Linked DNA regions of Homo sapiens. The protein of the gene in region 4 purifies or fractionates together with the protein of the main gene of each other region. This does not show direct contact. Each region holds a gene or a part of one and is shown on either strand. Other genes may lie near its edges.

Region 1 (2,407 bases), on a different chromosome or scaffold from region 4:
CTTTTAGTAGGCTTAAGCCATGTGTTTTGGGCAGACTTTTTTTTTTTTTTTGAAACGGAATCTCGCTCTGTCACCCAGGCTGGAGTGCATGCAATGGCACAATCTCAGCTCACTGAAACCTCTGCCTCCCGGGTTCAAGCGATTCTCCTGCCTCAGCCTCCTGAGTAGCTGGCATTACAGGCATGCGCCACCACGTCTGGCTAATATATATATATATTTTTTGTATTTTTAGTAGAGATGGGGTTTCACCATGTTGGTCAGGCTGGTCTTGAATGCCTAACCTCAGTGATCTGCCCACCTCAGCCTCCCAAAGTGCTGGGATTACAGGCGTGAGCCACTGTGCCCTGCCAGACTTTAATGTTTTTAAAAGTGCGGCGCTTTTAGGGAGATGAAGGAAATGAACATACTATAAATCTGCAGGCATTTAAACCCCTCTGACAACAATTAAGATGGTGCATTCACAAAGAAGCTTTAAATCAAACAACCCATAACACTTGATGTAGAAAATGTTCCAGCTTCCATAATTCTTTATTAAATATTTGACAAGTTGCATCGCTTCTTTACAATGACTTCATTTTGTCACATTAGTCTTTTGCTGTCAGGAAAACAATCTACAGTTTCTCTTTAGATCTCTCAAGAAAAAAGAAAAGCGAAAGGATTGTTCTTCAAGAAAACTTCCTGTGTGTATCAAATTCAACCATATTTTAAAGCTATTCTGACTGTGAAAATGAGCATTATTCATAAGTTGCCTTAAAAAAATTCAAGGTAGTTTGGTTTTTACCACTGTATCAAATAGTACTTGGCTTCCTATTAGGAGGTGGGTTTATAATAAAAAGTTATGAAACATTGATAATTTATTTGGAATGCTTGAAACTCTTTTCACCTTAAAAGTCACTGTTTTTTTCATGTTTCATTTGATGATAGATCCTGAATTAGGAAATGACAGCAAATTAACATCATCTTCCTAGGGTTTTCTTAGGCTCCAAGGGTTGAAATTCACAGGACACAGCTTGGAGAAAACTGCAGAAGGGACTAAACTCTCACCTCCTTTCGAAACCAGATTACTCAATAAAGGTGTAAAAATGCTATACAAATATATACAAATATATTTGGACAGCATATGTACGTATATATGTATATATATTACATACAGAGTAGTAAAGGAAGAACAAAGTCACGCAAAGTTAACATGAAGGAAACCGTGACAATCTAGGTGAAATCAGTCTGAGTAAAAGGGGAAAACTGGCTTACACGGGAACACATATCTGCAGACACAGAGTTATGGTCACGAGGAAGGCTTCTGATGATGCACTGGTACGGGGTTGAGAATGCAGTGCACGCGAGGTTAGGCGCCAACAGCAATGCTACTCCTTACACACAGAAAACCAACGAACGGAAAGACGTGCCTTTGAAACATGCGTTGCTTTCAGTGGAACATCTTTAACAAACAACAGATGTTTAATGAGGTTTGCTTGGAAAATTTCATGCCAACAGGAAGCTAACCCTTTTCTAGAAAACGTTCTCCAAGCTCCCGTCCTAATGCTGTGGCACTTTCTCTGACATACTGAGAACACTCTGGGGTGGGGGTGTGTGTATGCAAATGTATAGACACTGTTCATTAAGGCTTATATAAATTAAAAAAGTGGTCCAAAGAATATCACATTTTTCCCCAGTTTTAAAATCTAAAGTACAAAGTGGAGTTTATAAGGATTTGTTTTTTAAAAACACATCTCAGTCCTGAAATTGGCAGTTCTGACACGACTTATCAGGATGTACCCCAATGCCTGAATGACAGAGGTAGTGATCTTCGGGGTCAGGGGAGGTCAGGAAGGGAGCAGGCGGGCAGTTACCCTGCACAGCGGCACCCTCTACTGGCGAGGCAGCAAATGATACCAGACAGCACCTCCCACCTCTCCCTCTTAAGTACAGGGGTGCAGGGCCAGGGTAAGGAGGAGACAGAAGAAGGAGAACTAGCACAGTGTCACGTAGGGGCTGCAGAACTGATTAACCCAGGCTCTCTTTATACGTTTTTAAATTTCAGAGGTGAGTACAAGACTCTCAGAAATACAGGAGTCGACTGTTAATGGGTAACTGTTAGAATAATTAAAAAGTTGCTGTGTATGAACCTGGCTTTCGGGAGGACCAGTGTGGATCTGGCAAGATAGCAGCGGTGCACACTCTCTATGCAACAATGGGAGATGTAGAAAATGGTTCAAATGTTTTGCATGCTGTTTCTCAGAATCTGTCACTGTGAGGCCGGGTGCGGTGGCTCATGCTTGTAATCCCAGCACTTTGGAAGGCTGAGGCGGGAGGATCACCTGAGGTCAGGAGTTCAAGACCAGCCTGGCCAGCATGGTGAAACCATCTCTACTAAAAATACAAAAATTAGCCAGGCGTGGTGGTGGGT
Region 2 (3,500 bases), about 28 Mb from region 4:
TTCTACTAAAAATACAAAAATTAGCCGGGCATGGTGGTGCATGTCTGTAATCCCAGCTACTCTGGAGGCTGAGGCAGGAGAATCACTTGAACCCAGGAGGCAGAGGTTGCAGTGAGCTGAGATTGCGCCATTTGCACTCCAGCCTGGGCGACAAGTCAAGACTCCATTTCCCCACCACCCCCCAAAAAACAAATAAAACAAAATCATTGCCATAGAAGTAAAAAAAAAAAAAATAGTGAATTTTATATAACTTTAGGTGAAGCACAATTTTCTAAGTGTGCCACTGAGGAAAAACACTGACTGAGAAAAGCTGATACAAAAATCTAAACTTCTGTGCATCAAGAAAGCAGAAGAAATCTAAAGGACAACAAACTAGGAAAATAAATGCTAACTAAAAGAAGGGTTAACATCTCAATTACAAAAGACTTTAAAACAACAATGTGGAAAAGATAACATATTGGAAAAAGGTGCAGAGGACATGAGTGAGCAATTCCCAAATGGCTAATAAGCATAACTGTTATGAAAAAATGTTCACTTCAACTAGAGTTCAAAGATTTAGTTGCAAGGATACTCCTTATACCACCATTTGGAAAAAGAGTAGAAACAACTTTAAGGTCCTATAATAAGGGATAAAGTTACAAATTCAGTAAGTTATCAAGTAATCACGTTATGTCTATAAACCAGAAACTAAAGATGACATAAATTTTTCTTTATAATGTGGATCAATGTCCATGATATTACTAGTAAGAAAAAAAAAAGTAGAGGATAAAACAAAGTAAATAAATAGCATTTGTGGAATGATTTCATTTTTATAAAAAAATACATCTTTGTATAGAACACTATATAAACAATGATATAAAATGATGTCTACCAGATTATGTCCACTGCATATCTGAGAGAGTGAAACAGAAGATGGGGAAAGCGGGGTACCCCATTTTTTGTTTAACTTGTTCTATAATTATATATAGTAAACAAATATGGTTTTCCTAATAGGAAAAATATGTTTTTTGTCTTTAAGAAATGACACACAAACCAATATTTTATTCTAATATATAAAAATCAGAAATAGTAAACAGAAAATAACCAGAAGACCAGGAAGTGAAGAACTCCTGGTCTTAACCTAGTGCCTCAACCTCTCTCCTTTTTAAAACTGAAAAGGACCAGGAGTTTGTTTACTCCTGAAAGAAATAGGCAAAAGTTATTGAACAAAAAAATAGCACCATAGGATTGCTTTTTCAGTGCTATTTATTTGCTCAACAGCTTGTTGCTTCCCAAAGCTATACAGAAAGTTCATTACAATTCTTATGCTGCTGATTCCTGTCCCATGGATGAGTTAGTGCAAACAGGCAATCATTGCCTCTCCTGGTCCAATTAACTGTTTGGCTTGGCAACTCTGTCAAACTGAAAACCTTCATGGCTGAAACAGTTACAGGAAAAGTTCTAAGGTAAATCTGGGTAATCTGAAATGACAGCACTAGATAAGACAGGATTCCTGAAGGGTGACCTTAAGTTTCCTGGGAAAGTTCATTCCTCACATCCTGTCATACTCCCATCAAAGCACGCTTAGTCAAAGGAAGAAGTGAAAGCCATCAGAAGTCTTTTCCAGAAGATTATGGAGAACCTTTCCATTAGTCACAATAGATGACTAACAGCCTTGAGGAATCTAGATGCTTTGAGAACACTTTCTAGTAATTCCAGGGCTAGAAAGTCTCTGAACTTCAGAATAAGATATAATTTTTGTATTACTGTTTACAGCTTTGTCAGAGAGGTAGGTCATAAGACAATGGCAGTCTTGTGGAAAAGATGGCTATGTACACTAGTGAAGAGAACAAAACCACCTTACTCTTATGCTACCAAAATCTCTCTGAAAATTATCTACATTAATACTAAGTAGACGGCTAGTAAGATATGTTAACGTAAAAAGAAAAGAAAAACAAGTTGTGACGTGTGGTGACAGTGGTAATAAAAACAATGTTAACATATCAAGATCCAACAAAAAGACTTTAACATTTCTCCAATGAAGAGAAACATTAAATATCTGAATCAAGTGAGCTAGCAGAACCAGGAATAGAACCCAGGACTAGCTAACTTCTTGCTGTTAACAGCCTTTCTATTAAATTATTTATCAACAGAAACTACATGAAGCAGCACTAAACTGAAAAAAAACAAGGAAGGCCAATTAGGAACAGGTATTTCATAGAAGATTCTCTGACACACATCTGCCTCCTTTTGTTCCGGTAAAGTACTGGTCATACTGTACAAATTGTTTTCGTATTCCTGAGAAATCATATGGTCCAATCCTCTGACTCTAGGCAGAACTGCATATAATCAAGTAGCAAGAACAAACATGGGGCTCTGAACCCATAAAAACAGTGAACAGAAGCCACTGTTAATTTCAACAAATTTCTGAATGAGGACAAACAAATGGAGGACTGCTGACTGATGAAGCAGGGCAATGTAAATTACAGCCCATAATACTTACCGGAAGGCTGCAGCCAAGCTAGAAACCAATCTGCCCTCTAAGACCAGATAGGCTCTTCAAGAGGTCTTCCATGTAAAGATAAACCCCCTTCCCTAAAGCAGAAACCTGATAGTCGACAGCCTTGCCTATGTATACAGAAGTCCTAATCAACTTTTCTGTTACCTCTTTCTTAAACAGAAACGAGCTGCACTTTACTGTATGCATGGTATACATCTCAATTAAAAAATTATATGCATAGATATGCAATCATCACCAAAAAATATCCGATAATTAAATTCAAAGTGCAGAAACAAAAAAACGAATCATTCATATCCTCAGAGATTCAAGAAGCTATTGCAACCACAAAAAGAGCAATGCAAGGAAAAATATACCAATAACAAGAAATAGGGAGGCTGTATGGAATGATGTGCAGAAGCCAGAAAAGCAATCAGTCAGAGTAGAAAAAACAAGAAGACAGAGGACTGCAAAAGAGAAGGGTCTAAGACAAAAGAAAGTTTACAGATTTGATATTATGCTTAAGGAACAGGAATAATATAGGGGCATGATAAAGACACACATGCAAGAAAAAAAGAGGCAATTAAAGAAACTCCAGGGCCAGGTGTGGTAACTCACACCTATAATCTCAACACTTTGGGAGGCTGAGGCAGGCGGATCACTTGAGGCTAGGAGTTCAAGACCAGCCCAGCCAACATGGCGAACCTCGTCTCTACTAAAAATACAAAAATTAGCTAGGTGTGGTAGCGTATGCCTGTAATCCCAGCTACTCAGGAGGCTGAGGCATAAGAGTCGCTTGAGCCCGGGAGGCAGAGGTTGCAGTGAGCCGAGATCATACCACTGCACTCCAGCCTGGGCAACAGAGACTCTGTCTCAAAAATCAAAACAAAACAAAAAACCTCCAGAAAAAAAAAAGATGCTATAAGAAAGAAAATGTAATCATTTGCATTACATTGGCCCTAAATATTTACACAGTCGTAATATGCATAAATTTTGCAAGCCAACAGTTGATAGAATAAGAAAC
Region 3 (3,500 bases), on a different chromosome or scaffold from region 4:
AATGGAAAGCAAGCTATGCTAGAATGTCATGGCAGCCACAACTTTTCTAGGAAATACCAATGCTTGAGGGTGTGCAACGTGACCCGTTAATGAATACAGACTCAGAAGTCCTGTCCTGTCCCCTGACCACTGACCACCTTAACTTTTCAGAAACATAGGCAGATTTCAGGCTTTCTTACGGATGATCTACTTGGCTGGTGACTTGGTTTCACTAGTGGGAATCTTTCCTAAGTTTTTAGATCACAGGTGAAATTTATCAATCCTTCAGGCTTCGTGAGGGAGCTCACACCTCATATAGCCAAAAAAAAATGAACAAACAAATAACTGAAAGGATATTGCCAACAAAAACTGACACTGTATATAAATCACTTGACTTGTTGAAAATATAATCCTCTCCTAGGGTTTGCAAAGTTCTTGCCCTCACCCAACATACCCAGGAAGAAATGACACCGCATCCTGTTTCTTGCACTTAACCATGTGATACCCTGAAACATAGCTTGGACTTACCCAGCCTGGCCTCCAGCCTCCTGCCACCCACTCAACTCCGGCTCCTAGCCACGAGTAAGAAGTGCCCGCAGGTATCTCACCAGATGCCTGGACTACTGAGATTTCTAGTCTTAATGATTTAGGTAGCTTTCTGAGTTTGTGGGTAATGTGCACCAATTTTGAAAAGCAACCCTTTCCTAACAGCTTCCAATATAAGATGATCCTGGCAGAAGGCAGGAAACACACACCGCTGCTGTTTTCAATCATAAAATCCCAAAATGAACAGGCTTCCAACACAGGTAGATGGTAAATCAACATTCCTCTAAACATGTGTCTGCCTACATAAAAAAGAGAAATTGTTCTGAAACAAGAATGTACCATAAAGGTAGGCCCAGAGAAGAAGTCGAACCAAACGTACCATGAATCTTAAATAGTCACCCAACTGTGCCCCTGTGAGCACCACGGACACCCTTTCAAGGCACATACCATCTACATTGTAGACTTTCAGCCCGGCCATATGCTTGGCTGCTCGGAATTTGGAGGCTGTTAGGAGGTTTGGGTTATAGATGGTGAAATCTTTGTAGTAATTTTCTAGGACCACCAATGCTGCTCGCTGGATACTGAGAAAAAAAGAACAAAATTAATGCAAAGCTTTTTCACTGAAGAAGCAGGTCCTAAACGAAAAATCCTCTTTTGGAGTCAGGTAAAGGAACACAACATCAAAGATAATCTCATACAGAAGTCCACTGGGTTCCACCACACTTCTGGTCTCCAGGATGAGAACTTAAAGCTGAAACTAAGCCCCATGGCCAGGTGACTTCTGTGCCCTCTCCTGGACCTGTGATTAGCCACATCCCATCTAGCCCTTTGTTGAAAGAGGAAGAAGTTGTAACTCATAACTTACATTTAGCTTTAGGCACACAAGAACTTTTTCTATTTTTCCTCGGTTTACAAAAGAAGAAACTGAGGATGCCCCCAAAAGGGCAAGAGACTTACTAATGGTTGCAGAGCTAATGAGTGAAAGAACAAAGTATAGATTCAGGTTTCTCAGGTCCTCATTCAGGGTTTTGTCCCCTAGGCCTTGGTATCCCTGGGTATAAGGAATCCTGGAACTTAGGTTTTATACAGACCAGAACAACTGCAGCCATCCAGGGCAGAGCGTACTTAAGAGGGCCTTGGCCACGCGCGGTGGCTCACGCCTGTAATCCCAGCACTTTGGGAGGCTGAGGTGGGCAGATCACCTGAGGTCAGGAGTTTGAGACCAGCCTAACCAATATGATGAAACCCCGTCTCTACTAAAAATACAAAAATTACCGGGGTGTAGTGGCATGCACCTGTAATCCCAGCTACTCGGGAGGCTGAAACGGGAGAATCACTTGAACCCAGGAGGCGGAGGTTGCAGTGAGCCGAGACTGCACCACTGCACTCCAGCCTGGGCAACAAGAGTGAAATTCAGTCTCAAAAAAAAAAACAAAAAAAACAACAAAAAAAAGAGAGCCTCCGCTGAGACCACTTGATCTTTCTGGGTCCCCCTGCCCCTTGGAGTGCTATCTCTGGCCTTTGGCAGAGGGGTATGAAGGTGACTATCTATGTTCCGATATTCTAGGTCTCCAACTATCCCCTGCTTGGTCCTCAGAGAGCAGCAGGGGAACAAAGAACAGGTACCATCAACAAGTGGGAGAGAGGATGTGGGAGGGTACTTATAATTGGAAATGAGTATAGACAGCAAAAGAATATGCCCTTGGTCTATGGTGCAGAACACTTGCCACTTTGAAGAACACCTTGCAATGATACAGCAAGGGTTTGCACATACCTGATTCTCATTTAACCCTCACAATCATTCGAGGTAAGAAAACTGAGGCTCAAAAATCTATGACCTGCACAACAGTATGCATTTAATAAACAGGAGAGCTGGAACTCTGATATGATTTACAAACCTCCAAGTTGGGCTTCCCGGTAACATGCGGACTCTGTGTAACAGCGTACGTGCTGACATCTCCAACCACCACCATGTTAAATACCACAGATATATTTTTATCTTGCCCTTTGGATTTTCCTTTCTAGTACTCTGCTAAGCAGATCGGCTTACAAGGATTATTTGCAGTAGCCAGAGCACCAGGATGGGGCTCCCTTTGATTCCTGGATGACCACACTGTGTTCCAACACTCTCCAGGTGGCTCAGGGATCCTCACTTCACACCAAGACAAGGGAGCTCCTAAACTATCCACTGGAAATTCTGTCTACCCACCCATTTGGCTCCCCTTGGAGCTCTGCTTCAAGACTTGAACAGAATTGAATATGGAAGTCAGTCAGCTAACCTGCTTAAGAGCAGAATCATGGTAAAACTTTCTGAGTTATATCCCCAACAGTGCCCGCATTCAGTTGGTACTTAATATCGTCCTAGATAATGTACAGTCATGTGAGGCTGGGGAACACTATCAGGGGAAATCCGGTGAGACCAACTTTGCATAATGGAAGTAAACCTAAGACTCCTAACAGCAAATCTGCATTTTGAAAATTCTGACCATTCAGTTACTCAGTTGTTCACTCGTCATTCCATATTTGAGTGCCTGTGTCTGCTAAGCCCTGGGAATATGAAGATAGACCTTAGCTGGTACCTGGAGCATGAACCCCATGACAGTGAGTATGTTCTCATGCTGGAACACGTGGGGCTGAGTAACCACGGAGAAGAGCTTCTGGCTGCCTGGGACAGGGTGCAGCCTTCCTGAGGAGGCGGACTTCCGTGGAGGTTTGTGTGTCACGAGAGCTCTTCCTGCAGAAGTCTAGTCTGCTTGCCCTGAAGGTCTCACCTGGCAATCTCCAAGTCAATGTGGCTCCAACTCCGTCCTTGCCCCCTGTCCATGGCATTCTCCAGAGAGGGGCAAGTGTTTCTTTATTCCTACCCCATCCAGAGATTCATTGCAACCCTCTCCCTGATCTCTCTCTCTCTCTCTCTCACATACACACACACACACACACACACACACACACACACACACTCCCTGGTGTGTGCC
Region 4 (3,338 bases):
GAGGGTGGAAGGCACCACAATGTGGATGACTCATCAACATGGAAAACTCTTAAAAACATACTGCCAAGTGAGACAAGAGAGTACACGCTGTACAGTTCCATTCACAGAAAGTCCAAAAACAGGTAAAACGAAACTGCAGTGTTCAAGGATACGTGCAAGGGTGGTAACTATCCAGTGAGGCAAAGCTTTTCTTTGTTATGGTGATGGCCAAAGAAGTCAGGAGAGTGACTACCCCTGGGGCAGTGAGGCATTTGGGAGCAGGAAGGGACATCTGAGGAGGAAGTTCTAGGGTATCAGCAATCTCCTATTTGATGATCTAGATGGCAGTGACATGGATATTTACTCTAGTATTATTTGCTATGTCATGCATTTGTTTCATGTACTTTGAACGTTATGTCTTAGCACTTTTTTTTTTTTTTGAGACGGAGTCTTGCTCTGTCGCCCAGGCTGGAGTGCAGTGGCGTGATCTCGTTTCACTGCAACCTCCACCCCCCAGGGTTCAAGTGATTCTCCTGTCTCAGCCACCTCACTAGCTGGGACTACAGGCATGTGCCACCATGCCCACTTAATTTTTCTATTTTTAGTAGAGACACGGTTTCACCACATTGGTCAGGCTGGTCTCGAACTCCTCACCTCAGGTGATCCACCCATCTGGGCCTCCCAAAGTGCTGGGTTTACAGGCTCGAGCCACCACGCCCGGCTGTCTTAGTACTTATTAAAATTCCAAAACAAAACATGAAAGAGAAAAAAAAAGAGGACTGAGGACCGGCAACCTGCTTGGCAACTCACCCAGGCTTGTGCACAATGTCCCTCAGCACCCGCACAGCGTCATCGTTGCTCATGTTCTCAAAGTTCATGTCATTCACCTGGAAGCGACGGCAAGTGGGTCAGAGACACGGTGGGAGAGGCTGAGGGCCCCCGTGCAGGGCAGCTCAGTGGCCCTACCCCAGCACACCTGCAAAAGCATGTCCCCTGGCTCAATGCGCCCGTCGGCCGCCACAGCCCCACCCTTCATGATGGAGCCAATGTAGATGCCTCCGTCTCCCCGCTCATTGCTCTGGCCAACAATGGAGATACCCAGGAAGTTGTACTTCTCTGTGGAGAGAGGCCATGTGAAAAGAGGAGCCCCTGCCACAGGACGCCCGGAACCCTAGAGACCAGGCCCTCCCCACGCCCTAGCCACAGGCTCTCCCCATACCCATGTTTAGCGTGACTGTGATGATATTGAGAGACATTGTGGAATCTGTGACGCTGCTGAAGGATGACGTCTGTGGTGGGAAAAGGAGCCAGAGTGCCCTTCAATAACCCAGGGTCAACCCTGGGGTGCTGCCGGTGTCCTGGCACCGCCCAAACCAAAGCCCATGCCCCACCTTCTCCCAGCACCAGCCTTCCTGTAGGAACCCCTCACCCTCTCCAGGCGGGGTGGCCTCTGCTTCCTTCGCCGCCGGTGGCGCTTAAGGAGGCGGGAGGCACTGCTCTGCTCCGTGGAGCTGCTGAACCTACCAGGAGGTTGGGAAGGAGAGCAAACGTAGGCCAAAGTGGTCATGGGGCCAAGAGAAAGAACAAGAGGATTGACTGGAAGACGAGACGGGGCTGGGTGCGCTGGGGAGAGCTGTGCGGAGCCACACCTGCTCATGGTGTCCTCCTCGTCCGAGTCCCCCAGGCTGGTACTCTCCAGCTCGCTGGTCATGAGGGTAGAGGAGCTCTCGTATCCGGCCAGGTGGCGCTCCAGCCTTGAGGGGCCACCAGTCCTGTGGCCCCCAGCTACATATGGACAGGAAGCTCAAGAACCAAGCTTCCCCCTGCTCACCCCACCAAGGCTGGGGTCTGGCCCAGCCCTTCCCGGCCCCCAGGCCTGCCCCTCACCGCCATGCTCACTGCTGTCTCTCCTGCGAGGCCGCTCCCGCCTCAGTGACACTACTGACTCGGTTTCTGTCTCAGGCTCCAGATTCTCATGGCTGCTGGACACATTAGGGCTGGACAGGCAGAGATGGTTTCCAACCCACATCAGGAGAACAGGGCTCCGGATCCTAGGCGTCCCCTACCAAAGGCCTGGGTTCCCTCCTCACCTCCCTCCCCTGCAGTCAAGAATCTGAAGGACTCACTGGAAGGATGGAGGCCTTGAGTCCCCAATGCCGCTGGTCCTCTCGGGTGGCAAAGGAGGTAAAGGTGGGGCTGGAGGCGCCAGTTCTGCCCGAGGCTCATGGACTGGAGGGGCCATCTCGGGTTGGGGATTATCTGAGGACACCAGCTAGAAGGGTGCAAATGATAAACAGTGGCTCACTTGGGAGTCAGGGTGTGACAGGTGGCAGTAAGTGAAAGAATGAGAAAGGGTCTCAGAGAGCTGGAGAAGAGCAAAAAAACCTAGCAAGTATTAGAGACTCCAGAAGGAGAAGGCTGAGGGCCTCTCGCCGGCTCTCCAAACAGACAGGAGGTAAAGAGCCAGGGCTGCTAACGCGCGGCCTGGGGAGGATACAGAAACAGACTGAGGCTTGAGGGAGCTTGGCAATGCTGAGGGGGCCTGGTCCTCGGTGTCAGAACCTCTTACCCAGGATACCACCCTTCCGTTGAAGCAGGGGAGGCGGGCGTTGTCATCTGAAATTTCTTCCTTCACCACCCTGCCAAGCGACAAGGTAGAGGTCAGTGAGCTGGACCAACCATCCCCACCCCGACCCCCATCAAACTTTCTCCCAATCTTCACCTGGCTCCAGGATGTTGACTTTCTCCTGCCCTGTTCAGGTCTTCTCTTACATTGAAAGAACTCACTCCGACACCTAAGAAATCTCCAAACTCAATCCCCTTTCCTTATTTCTCCTCTCCCTAACGCACCCTCAGGGGCACAGTGCTGCTCCAAAGACTTCCTTGAGTCTGACTCAAACCTCTTAGTCCAGTTTCAAAAGCAATCCCGCACGCTGATGCGGCTGCCTGAGATACCTATCTAATGAGACTGGCTGGTGGCCTCCTCTCAACCCCACCCCTGTTCCTTACAAACCTTCCAAAAAGGTCAGGCACGGTGGCTCACACCTGTAATCCCAGCACTTTGGGAGGCTGAGGCGGGCGGATCACCTGAGGTCAGGAGTTCAAGACCAGCCTGGCCAGCATGGTGAAACCCCATCTCTACTAAAATACAAAAATTAGCCGGGCATGATGGTGGGTGTCTATAATCCCAGCTACTCAGGAGGCTGAGATGGGAGAGTCGCTTGAACCCGGGAGACAGTGGTTGCAGTAAGTCGAGATCGCGCCACTGCATTCCAGCCTGGGCGGCTCAAAAAAAAAAAAAAAAAAAACCTTCCAAAAAAGGCTTTGGTCCTCATCAAAGCCTCTACTCTTATACTTTC
Region 5 (3,500 bases), on a different chromosome or scaffold from region 4:
CCTTGGCCTCCCAAAGTGCTGGGATTACAGGCGTGAGCCACCACGCCCAGCCTTTTAATTATCATTCTAAGACAGGGTCTCTGTCGCCCAGGCTGGAGTGCAGGGGCGATCACAGCTCACTGTTGCCTCGACCTCTGGAGCTCAAGCAATCCTCCTGCCTCAGCCGCCTGAGTAGCTGGGACTGCAGGGGCACAGTGGAATACCTGTCTAATTTTTTTGTAATTTTAGTAGAGATGGAGTTTCCTCACGTTGCCCAGACTGGGCTCAAACTTCTGAGCTAAAGAGATTTGCCTCCCTTGACGTTCTGAAGTGCTGGGATTACAGATGTGAGCCCCCGTGCCCGGTCAGGCTTTCTTTTCTTTTTCTTTTTTTTTTTTTTAAGGCAGAATTTTACTCTGTTGCCCACGCTGGAGTGCAGCGGTGCAATTTCAGCTCACTACAACCTCTGCCTCCCAGGTTTCAGTGATTCTCGTGCCTCAGCCTCCCACGTAGCTGGGACTACAGGTGCGCCACCACGCCTGGCTAATTTTTGTATTTTTAGTAGAGACGGGGTCTCACCATGTTGGCCAGGATGGTCTCAAACTCCTTACCTCGTGTGATCTGCCCGCCTCAGCCTCCCAAAATCCAGGTTACATTCGTGAGCCACCGCCCCTGGCCCTGGTCAGGCTTTTGAGAGTAGATCCATGAAAGTGTCGCCATGTCCCTGCTCCCTGCAGGAGGGAGGCCTGTGGGACTTTCTGCTGTGGCTGTTTACAAGGCTTTGCTCCTGGTGCCTAAGGCTGGAACCTTCTCTCTGCAGGAGAAGATAAGCGAGGACCTCAGGGCCACACTGAACGCCTTCCTGTACCGCACGGGCCAGCACAGCAACAAGTGAGGGAGCCCCTCGGGTCCTGGGCCCCCGGGCAGGGCTGTGCAGCCGTCGCCCTTGGTTCCCACCGAGGGACCTGAGGGGCCCTGGCTCACAGTGCTGGGCAGCTGCCGTGGCCTCAACATGCCCACCTCGGATGTCCCCTGGGAACGGCCCAGCTCGGGACAGCACGGGGTGTCACTGAGGAACATGCGGGGGCCTCCCGGGCAGAGCTGGGGTCAGTCCTGTCCTCACGGCCCTGTGCGCCGCCGCCCCAGCTTGCAGGTCCCTCTGCCCCTAGGTTTCTGCGGTCCTGTGCCTGCAAGGGAGGTGGTCTCATCGTGTGAGGCTCTGCTGGGTCTCCCTTGGAGGGTGTGTGTGCCCTGGGGTGGGAGATGGAGACAAGTTTGCTCCCACGGGAAGTTGGACACCAGCAGGTCCTGTGTGTCGGGGCGGAACCTGGGACCTTGGTCCCCCGCCCGGATGCTGGCCAAGGGTGCACCCTCCAGGCTTGGGGCCCACCCGACTTTGTGTGGCCTCTGTGGGCTGCCGCCCAGAGGTCCCCCATAGGGTGACCGCCCCATGGCCAGGCTCCCTAGTCCCTCCCAAGTCCCCTAATTTTGAGTTTTCTTGGTCTCCTGGGCCCCTCCAGCCCCAGTCACGTGTCACACGGAGGATCAAGTCCTGCTGGTCGGCCGTGGCTGACTCCTCAGGCACGTTGGGCTCCCAGGTCAGCTGCTGCCGGTGGATGCTCCCTGGAGCCCTGACTCGGGTCCTTCCCAGAGAGGCAAGGCTGGGGCCCTGCTGAGCCTCCAGTGAACCCGGGCCCCTGAGGTCCTGCTCCTGGCACGTGTGGGCGACTTCTCGACATGGACTCCGGGTCCCGAATCCCTGCTCCCAGCACAGCAGGGGTCAGGCAGCAGGAGAGAGTGGTGTTCCCGGCACTGCCTATCAGGCTGGGCGAGGGTCAGCGGGAAAGCACTATATGGAGGGAGAACAGAGGCCCAGGAAGCCAGGCCGGGGGACAGCTGGGTGCAGTGGGGCAGGTGGCCGACCAGGGCTGTGCCCGTGTCCTCGTGTTTCCCGCCACTTTAGGTTCTCCCTGTGGGGGCTGAGGAGGCCCCGTTCCCCTTGGTGCAGCTCGGCCGGCAGCCCCAGCATCCTCATCCTCATCCCCGCCCCGCAGGTTCATGCTGGTCCTGGCCAGCAACCAACCAGAGCAGTTCGACTGGGCCATCAATGACCGCATCAATGAGATGGTCCACTTCGACCTGCCAGGGCAGGAGGAACGGGAGCGCCTGGTGAGAATGTATTTTGACAAGTATGTTCTTAAGCCGGCCACAGAAGGAAAGCAGTAAGTGTCCCGCCCCACCAGCCCCCGTCCAGGGGCCCTCGCTCAGGGTCCACCCCGACCCACAGTCCACCATCACTTACAAACCTTTAACATTCCTTTTTTTTTTTTTTTTTTGAGACAAAGTCTCATTCTTGTCGCCCAGGCTGGAGTGCAGTGACACGATCTCAGCTGACTGCAACCTCTGCCTCCCGGGTTCAAACAATCCTCTTGCCTCAGCCTCCTGAGTAGCTGAGATTACAGGCGCCCACCACCATGCCTGGCTAATTTTTTTTTAATTTTTAGTAGAAATGGGGTTTTACCATGTTGGCCAGGTTCGTCTCAAACTCCTGACCTCAAGTGATTCACTCTCCTCAGCCTCCCAAAGTGCAGGGATTACAGATGTGAGCCACCGCGCCCGGCGTCTTTTCCATTCCTCTTCACTACGAGGAGGGCTGTGAGGAAATCTTGTGCTCGGCCACCCCCAGGCCCTGGCTGTGAGGGGAGGTGATACGGAGTGTTGCTCTGAGACCCCCGTGTCGGGATTCGAAGGAGTCTCTCCTCATGAGACCCCCGTGTCGGGACTGGAGGGAGAGGCTCCTCATGGTCCACTGCTGGCTTCTGGCCTGGCCTCCCTCCAGCTGCCACACCCGGCCCTGGAGCCTCGTGGTGTGGGGCACGGCTCTTGCTGCTCACGTGCCTTGAGGCTGTCAGGCTCCCTGTTGCTGGCGGTGGGTGCAGCAGGCACGGTGGGCAGAGCCCTCCAGGTGATGAGGGGCCCTGGCACCACACACCGGCTGCCTCGGGAACACTCCAGATGAGCAGAGGCTGCTCCACTTCTTGGCGTCCCCCGGGCCCCGGTTTCTGAGTCCTTCTGTGCACCTGACCCAAATCCCTGCTGTCGCCAGTGATGACAAAAGAGAGCCTGGTTGCCGCTGCCGCCTGCTCCATGCCAGCCCAGCTTTCCGGGCCTCAGTTTCCCTATGCCCTCCCCTTCCCTGGGCTCCCCCACCCCCATGGCTGCTCGTAGCCCTGGCACCATGACTTGGCTTCTGTGGCCTCCAGGCAGACGCTTTTGCTAGAAGTCGGGGCTCCGCCACTGCCAGCATAAAGGCCACCTGCCCTGCGGGTGCTGAGTGAGCAGCTGTGGGCAGGGCTGGTGTGAGGAGTGGTTGGGGCCATCTCCAGGCCCTGCAGCCACTCCCTGCTCAGTCCGGGCCTGGCCTGCAGCAGGGAGGATGTGGAGCTGGGCTGTCAGAAGTAGAGAGCCCCTCCAAAGAGGATGTTTGGCGTGGGTGTCGGCCTCGCTGCCTGTCTTCCGGC
Region 6 (4,126 bases), about 75 Mb from region 4:
CAGCGCGAGGTGAGGCCTGGAGGGTAGAATGCTGAGTGAGGAGACAGCCTTCCACCCTCCACCTCTGGAATTACTTGGTGACAACCACACCAAAATTTGTCTTAATCTATCTTTGGAAAGCACAAAGTTGTTTGACAAGGTCTCAGATCAGAGAACAGATAGTTTCAAAGTACTTCTTATTTATTTATTTTTTGAGACAGAGTCTCACTCCATCGCCCAGGCTGCAGTGCAGTGGTGTGATCTTGGCTCACTGCAACCTCCGCCTCCCAGGTTCAAGCAATTCTCGTGCCTCAGCCTCCCAAGTAGCTGGAATTACAGGCAGCCACCACCACGCCTGGCCAATTTTTGTATTTTTAGTAGAGATGGGGTTTCGCCACTTTGGCCAGGCTGGTCTCCTGACCTCAAGCGACCCGCCCACCTCAGCTTCCCAAAGTGCTGGGATTACAGGCGTGAGCCACCACACCCGGCCCAAAATACTCCTTTTTGATGCCTGCCTAAAGGTGGCTAATGGACTGGCTTTGCAGTGTAACTCAGATCCTGGGGTTAAAACTTTCGCCAAAATCCATTGTTCTATAAATAAGCCAAACGACTTCCATTGACCAAGCACTCTGACTTCCCAAACACTGCCAAGAACACATCCAGCTGACCACCTGGTATAAATGTTTAATAGCCAAACCCAAATGTCTAAAGCCTGCTTACTCAGCAGTCCACTAAGGCATATGTACAGGTTCAAAAGCAACAATATGGCATGTGACAGGGTCACCTGGCAGGTTAACCAGGCACCGAAAGTATGAGCCACCCATATGTGTGGATTCGTCCTAACGCTGTCAGCCCACCGGGTCCTGAGTCCTCTCTCTGGTGACAAGTGGGAAGGGTGTGAGAACTGGAGACTGTCCACATGTGGCTTCATCTAAAAGGTATGACCAGAGGCATTACTGACATCCCAGGGGATTCCTGACCCTAGCTGACAGGTGCCCCAGTTAAAACACACCCCAAAGCTAGGGCTGCTGGAACAGAAAACAGCTCCCCTCAAAGGTCTGCAGCAGCCCCTCTGCAGGCACACCGCCTCAGGCTACATATCCTCAAATTCAGGGGATCTTGGAATAACTCGTGCATTGCACAATCCCACTAACAAGTGCGGAAAATTAAGTTACTTTAAAATTACAAACTTGGGCCAGGCGCGGTGGCTTCCCAGCACTTCGGGAGGCCGAACTGGGCGGATCACTTGAGGTCCGGAGTTCGAGACCAGCCTTGACCAACATGAAGAAACCCCGTCTCTACTAAAAATACGAAATTAGCCAGGCGTGGTGGCGCACGCCTGTGATCCCAGCTTTTCGGGAGGCTGAGGCAGGAGAATCGCTTGAACCTGGGAGGCAGAGGTTGCGGTGAGCCGAGATCACGCCATTGCACTCCAACCTGGGCAACAAGAGCGAAACTCCGTCTCAGGAAAAAAAAAAAAATTACAAACTTGAAGATTTAAGCCAACCTTTCATCACACTTGTGTTCACGTGCATATTTTTCCATTGTAAATATGACACAACCCAAAACCTTCTAATCCCATTGTTTTTGAAATCTACCTTGAGACTGTTACAGTCTAAAGGACACCTCATGAGTACAACTACCTCATCTGCCTCTCATCTTGCCAGCATCTTAATCCTGTGTGACTTTCTCTACATTCACCTAAACTTAACCCTTGCTCATTTGCACTCAGTCACCGCTCCAAGGCCAAGGGGAACCGTTCAGAGAGAACCCCCAGCGGGAGGGCAAGCCCCACTCCTAGCCGGGCCACTCCCCCGCTCCACACGGCATTTGGGTCTTTCTGACATTTTCCCCCACGAATGCAAGACACCGGGGCAGCCTCTGAGGGGGCAGCCAGACAGCCCCGGACCGGGCTGCGGAAGAAAGAGCGTGGCCTTTGTTTACTGCGGTGACCTTAGGCGTAGAGGAAGCCGACGCCCGCTTCGCGGCCCCAGCCCTACCCCCTCCCCTCCCACGGCCCGCTGCCCCCACCCCCGCCCTGCCCCTCCCCCAGGCCCGCCTCCCCACGCCCCACCCAGCCCTTCCCGAGTCCGCTCCCCACGACCCTGCCCCTACCCAGGTCGGCTCCCCAGAGACCATGCCCCACCCCGGGTCAGCTCCCCTATCCCCTCCTTCCCCAACCCTCCCCTCTCCAGACCCTGCTCCCCCGACCTGGTCCTGCCCCTCCCCCACGTCCGCTCCCCACTGCCCTCCCCACCCCTGGCCGCGCTAGCCTAGTGGCCGTTGGGTTCTGGCCACGATCCGGCGGTGCCGGGACTTGCGCGGAGACCCCGCGGGGGCCACCACTTCCTTCCGCGATCGCGCTTGGTCTTGGCAGCCGCAGGGCCCGGGTCTTCGGGCGGCGGGCGGGGGCGGCGGGGCCTCACCGAGATAGATGTCTCCGAAGGAGCCGCTGCCGATCTTCCGGCCCAGCCGGTACCTGTTCCCGACTCTCAGCTCCATGGCGGCGGCGGCCCGATTCGCTCCTGCCCTCCCGGCCGCTTCCTGGGTCTGAACTCTGGGAGGCGGCGCCGCTGCTGCCGCTACTGCGGGTCCGGCTCCCGGCTCCGCCCCCCTCACGGCCCCGCTTTCACCATCGCTTTCCTGTCGCCCCGCCGCTCCCAGCGCCTCAATACGGGGCGGATGGGACAGTCCGAGCGCCGCCGCCGCTGCTCCGGCCCCTACCGGTCCCGCTTGCCCTCTCCCCGCCGCGGATGGACTCGGATCTTCCGGGCCTAAATCCCCTTTCAGCTGCCTAAAGGAGCCGCCGCCATCGCGCTGTGACGTCACTTCCCCTAGCAACCCGGCGGGGCGGGGCCGCGGCGCTCCAGGGGCGGGGCCGGGCGGGGCGAGCGCTCCAGGCCTCCTCCCGACCCTGCGCCGTGCCCAGCCCCTCTGCCCTCCTGTTACCCCGGGACCTCGGGCCGCCAGCCCCTTCCACGTGCAGGCTCCTGCTGCTCTCGCGGGGGCTTTTCGTGTGTCCCCCGAGATGTCGAGGAAGCCAGGTGAGTTCCTCGCGACAGGCGGTGCCCTTTGCAGGAGGGGACAGGTAGCTGAGGCGTGGACAGAGTGACAGGCCAGGCTCAGGGGACACAGGTGAGACCCCCTCACTGGGCTGCCAGTTCCCGGGCTTGGGGCATCCCAGTACGTCAGCGTCTGCGGCCTTACCTCCTGACACCTAAGGCCAGAGACAGAGCAGGCCCGCGCCCTGGGAGGTCCTGATGTCCAGCCTGAAGATTGAGGACAAAGCCACCACCTTTCACAAAATGAGGCCAGACCACCTGCCTCCCTCCAGTCCCTGCGGCCTGGAGACGGAGTCAACATTCTTATCTGTGTTGGATCTGAATGTTCCTCCTTGCAAAGGAAACAAGGAGTGGACGTTCAGGCTGATGGCCAGCTTCAAAGATCGGGGCCTTTGATTCCCATCACTGGGAAGAAAGCCCTTCAGACAAGCCCCCCCAGGCTGCAGGTGCATGGGGACCTTGAAGAACCCGTCCCCATGGTCCCACGTCCATGTGTCTCGAGACCTGTCGCATCCTCGCTGAAACTCAAGAATGTGAAACAGGTGAAGGTGTGTTTTGACGCATTAGCATACCAGGGCTGTGGTGTGGGCACCGCCGTGTGAGTGAGACAGCAGCCTCAGCCCGTCCAGGTCACTGCAGAAGAGGAAAGCAGCCCCCACAGGCCCCACAGTGGTGCTCGCCTTTCTCCACCCCCCAGTCTTTCCTCTCCACCCCTCAGCTCCAAACAGCTGGAGGTCAGGTCGGGGAGACGGGCGTCCATTCCCGAAATTACATAGCAGGGCCTGGAGACAGGAGATGCCGCCGGCCAGACCACCATCAGTCACTAATGAGGGATGGGCAGTCGGAACTGCCCAGTTTCTGAGTTACAGAAGCCGGGGGTGGGGGGCTGCCAGACTAGTAAAACTGACCTTGTTGGCGGAATCGCTCACGGCTTTTCTGTTGATGAACAGAGTCCAGCTCTCCCACGGGTGGCTGTGATCCTTCTTCCTGGGGAGTCCTGCTGTCCCTGACTAGGGGCACCTGCCCACCTGTCAGCTGCTCCTCCCTCGGCTGGTCCTCCTGGGCTCTGATGGCCCCAACATTTC
Region 7 (3,249 bases), on a different chromosome or scaffold from region 4:
GGCCTCCTAAAGTGTTGGGATTACAGGTGTGAGCCACTACGCCAGCCCCTTTTCTTCTTTTTTTACTGCTGTGATTTACTTTTTCCACATTCAACATCCCCTAGTCTTTTCTGGTGACTTCCAAGTGACATAGGAACCCCCTAAGGGGCACAGTCTATGTGCTCAACAACAGTATGCTGGTCAAAAAAGGTTAAATGCTGTTGCAATTTTAAACTTTCCACCGTTCGTCAATCAGAATTAAGTGACATATAATGTTTGCTTCCCGCAACACCCTTCTTTTTATGGTGAAGATAACTTAAGCATATTCATTAAAAAGGCTAAAGTCACACGTTCACACATTAAAAGTCACTTTGAGACATTCAATGATCTGATGGTGGACTTACGTTTTCTCCTTTAAAAGGAAGGGGTTGTCTGCTGTTGTGATTTTAACTGATACATCTCACTCTAGTCAAGGTGTTTAGCAGGAACTGTTAACAATGAAACTGAGAAAAACACAAACATGAACAAATGACCTTTTATTTCATACAGAGATACAAAGGCAACTATGTGCAGCAACAATCTGACGGGCAGTCCAAACTCTTGGGAGGAAGTAAATTCATGGTAAATGTCATGATGGCTGGTCGAGGAGAAGGTCAAAGGAGGAGAGAGAGGAGACAGAGAATGCTACAGCTAATAAATAACAGTAATGAGAACTGTGTGGTTTCAACGCCATGAGTTTGTTGGGGCATCCTCTGTGCTACTAAAGCCACAATTCTATATCATCATCATCAACATTCTTGAAGCGCATTTTACACTATTCTGCATTAGCAATTGTGTTGAGGGAACTATAAACCTTAAAATTACTGACACATTTTATTAAAGGAGCTGTAAACTCTGCTCATTATTGCCTGTCTTGGATGTGGCCTTTGGGATTCATAGCCTCTTTTAAGGAAACAGGGTTGACACACTTTGGTTGGTCCCAGTTTTTGAGGCAATGCTAGTTGTAATAGCATCATCTTTTAATCTGAGGAAAATGTTTCTTTAAAAAACCTGTCTTCCAAAATACAACAAAAAACAAGGTCTGGGTAGTGGCGAATCCTTCCATGGCACTCCATGCCTCCCTGTGGGCTGTAACCATGCACCTGAGTAAAGAGTCTCATAAAAATACTTCTCCAATGCATTTATAATAGGGACACACTACATAGTTTGTTATTCATTAAAGCAGTTTATTGGCTTAATGTACATCAGTGAATTTTTAAATGCTAAAAATTTATGATAAAAGAATACTGAATCAAAACATCAAAGAAAGAAAATAGAGGCTCAGCAGCATGATTTCAATATATTTTCCTGGAAAAAGTTTTTTTTTTTTTTAAAGTGTATGACTTTTTATCCAAGAACAAAAGCTTTCTAAATGCAATGTTTAGACTTGATTTTTTTTTTAAACTAAGCCCAGAAAACTGGGGCTCATAAAATAAAGGCACAATGTGGGCAGCAAGAGAAAAAAGGAGAAAAAATGGGGAAAAAATTGGTTTTAATCTCACGTGTAACATAGGTTGGCTGGTTTTGTTTTTGTTTTAGACAATTAAAGGCAGAATTATCTCCCTGAACACTGCAGATAAATCCTAGTGTTTTAGCTATAAGTTTCAAGAGTTCAGATATACAGATAAAGCAATTTAAAAAAAGCTTTTCTTATTCTAAGGCTTTTGATGCATTATATAAATCTTTAAAATTCCTATCACCCACATTTTAAGACATACATCTATACTTTAATAAGGCACTCTTAAGATATAAAACAGTTTTAAAAACAATGACATTCTACATTAGGGCTAACCCATTCCTCTGCCATAGGGATGGAGTGAATTGTCTCTCTGAATCAAGTCAATCTCTGTGCACCAACAAAAACAGGCAGGTGCCTTGACCCATTCTGAATTTATCTGAGTAGCTGAATTTTAGCAATGGGACTCTCCCATCCACTAGTCGGGGAGTTACACAAACAGAATTGCCCAAGTTTGATAATGAAATTTAAAAACATTATCTCCTTTTTTCTAGAAATGCTTCCTTTGAACATGACTGTCACTTCCATTAGCTCCTGTCCATAAAGAAAAACACAATGGAAGATAACCAATGATTCCCCATATCCTTCAGTTTTCCTGATGGGACAGAAATATAAAGGAACTTTATTTTTAAATGACAACCTAATAACTGTTAATAACATGACATTTTAGTTGTGTGTCTTGTATGTATTTATGTCATTGGTGCTAATAGCTTCCACTTCTAAATGACACACATTTGAATCCTACCATCCCTATTGCTAATTAAACAAACACCAAAGCTTACAATATAGTACTGCAACCTCTAAGACTGTAACAACACAGAGAAATTTTAGTGGAGTTTCCACTCTTTCCTAAGTAATGGAAGAAAATGAAGAAACCAGAAAGGTCAGACTAAGCCTGAAACACAATTTCACTATGAAAAAAGGGTAACAAATGTCCCATCAGAGCGAGAGGAGTTAAAAATGTGGCATCGGGAGTGTATCAGATTGAGGTGCTGTTGTTGGCTAGGTCTTTGCTTCCAATGAGGAAAGAAGGACCTAGAAAGGAGCTGTGAGGTGCTTCTTTCCTTCATCCTTCTGGGCTGGCAGCAAACGATCAATTACTTCCCGTAGAACTTTTTGTTGAGAAGGAAGATCAGGAGGTTGACATTTACTTTAGCTCTATCAAATAATTTCATGACTGCAACTCCTTCATACTGTAGCTGCAGCAGGTCCTATTAACAAAACAAAACAAAACAAAACAAAACATTTTGACAGTTAATCAAGTCTGTGGAACAAGGAAAAAGGACACAATGTAGGGAGGGATCCAGATGGACTGAGGCCTGCCTTGTGTGCCAGATGTGAACTGGGGCGAAAGAAAAGTTCCACGCTAGGCAACTACCCACTGCACAACCAGCCTGAGAGCTGGAGCAATAGGGCACATTGGCCAAGGGAGGCTTCTGGTTGATTTGGAGTTAGGAAGTCATGTTGTTCATATCAAAATTCATCATACATGGAAAGAAAAAGAAACATGTTCAATTGCCACACACATCTAAGCTTTTTATTTCAGAAGTCACAATGACATTTTCCCATTTCATCCATGTTATGGGTCACTAGTTTTAATAAATCTGGAAAAGGTGAAGCATTTAAACCTATGATGAAATATACTAAGCACGGGGAAATGAGATAAGGCTAGTAATGTCACCTTAATACTATCTGATAGATTCTTAATTTCTATT

Evidence for each region.
Region 1: the proteins of DVL2 (region 4) and NEDD4L purify together in Homo sapiens (affinity purification with mass spectrometry; 4 studies listed by BioGRID and IntAct, with this or other methods). This does not show direct contact.
Region 2: the proteins of DVL2 (region 4) and AP2B1 purify together in Homo sapiens (affinity purification with mass spectrometry, with the first as the bait; 2 studies listed by BioGRID). This does not show direct contact.
Region 3: the proteins of DVL2 (region 4) and VANGL1 purify together in Homo sapiens (affinity purification with mass spectrometry; 4 studies listed by BioGRID and IntAct, with this or other methods). This does not show direct contact.
Region 5: the proteins of DVL2 (region 4) and ATAD3A purify together in Homo sapiens (affinity purification with mass spectrometry, with the first as the bait; 2 studies listed by BioGRID). This does not show direct contact.
Region 6: the proteins of DVL2 (region 4) and CSNK1D purify together in Homo sapiens (affinity purification with mass spectrometry; 3 studies listed by BioGRID and IntAct, with this or other methods). This does not show direct contact.
Region 7: the proteins of DVL2 (region 4) and IQGAP1 purify together in Homo sapiens (affinity purification with western blotting; 3 studies listed by BioGRID, with this or other methods). This does not show direct contact.

Annotation. Positions count from the first base shown.
Region 1 is NC_000018.10:58,399,633-58,402,039, reverse strand, and holds the end of NEDD4L (E3 ubiquitin-protein ligase NEDD4-like), read right to left. Parts: 3' UTR 501-2,407; downstream 1-500. UniProt on the Homo sapiens protein: E3 ubiquitin-protein ligase that mediates the polyubiquitination of lysine and cysteine residues on target proteins and is thereby implicated in the regulation of various signaling pathways including autophagy, innate immunity or DNA repair.
Region 2 is NC_000017.11:35,628,822-35,632,321, reverse strand, and holds part of AP2B1 (AP-2 complex subunit beta), read right to left. Parts: intron 1-3,500. UniProt on the Homo sapiens protein: Component of the adaptor protein complex 2 (AP-2). Adaptor protein complexes function in protein transport via transport vesicles in different membrane traffic pathways.
Region 3 is NC_000001.11:115,679,970-115,683,469, reverse strand, and holds part of VANGL1 (vang-like protein 1), read right to left. Parts: intron 1,107-3,500; coding exon 973-1,106; intron 1-972.
Region 4 is NC_000017.11:7,228,180-7,231,517, forward strand, and holds part of DVL2 (segment polarity protein dishevelled homolog DVL-2), read right to left. Parts: intron 3,016-3,338; exon of another isoform or gene 2,702-3,015; intron 2,619-2,701; coding exon 2,549-2,618; intron 2,252-2,548; coding exon 2,106-2,251; intron 1,977-2,105; coding exon 1,867-1,976; intron 1,765-1,866; coding exon 1,629-1,764; intron 1,500-1,628; coding exon 1,409-1,499; exon of another isoform or gene 1,371-1,408; intron 1,269-1,370; coding exon 1,199-1,268; intron 1,096-1,198; coding exon 956-1,095; intron 867-955; coding exon 790-866; intron 1-789.
Region 5 is NC_000001.11:1,525,662-1,529,161, forward strand, and holds part of ATAD3A (ATPase family AAA domain-containing protein 3A), read left to right. Parts: intron 1-799; coding exon 800-870; intron 871-1,499; coding exon of another isoform or gene 1,500-1,614; exon of another isoform or gene 1,615-2,021; intron 2,022-2,033; coding exon 2,034-2,201; intron 2,202-3,500. UniProt on the Homo sapiens protein: Essential for mitochondrial network organization, mitochondrial metabolism and cell growth at organism and cellular level. May play an important role in mitochondrial protein synthesis. May also participate in mitochondrial DNA replication.
Region 6 is NC_000017.11:82,270,901-82,275,026, forward strand, and holds the start of CSNK1D (casein kinase I isoform delta), read right to left. Parts: upstream 2,801-4,126; 5' UTR 2,482-2,800; coding exon 2,406-2,481; intron 1,203-2,405; exon of another isoform or gene 1-1,202. UniProt on the Homo sapiens protein: Essential serine/threonine-protein kinase that regulates diverse cellular growth and survival processes including Wnt signaling, DNA repair and circadian rhythms. It can phosphorylate a large number of proteins.
Region 7 is NC_000015.10:90,499,491-90,502,739, reverse strand, and holds the end of IQGAP1 (ras GTPase-activating-like protein IQGAP1), read right to left. Parts: intron 2,746-3,249; coding exon 2,632-2,745; 3' UTR 501-2,631; downstream 1-500. UniProt on the Homo sapiens protein: Plays a crucial role in regulating the dynamics and assembly of the actin cytoskeleton.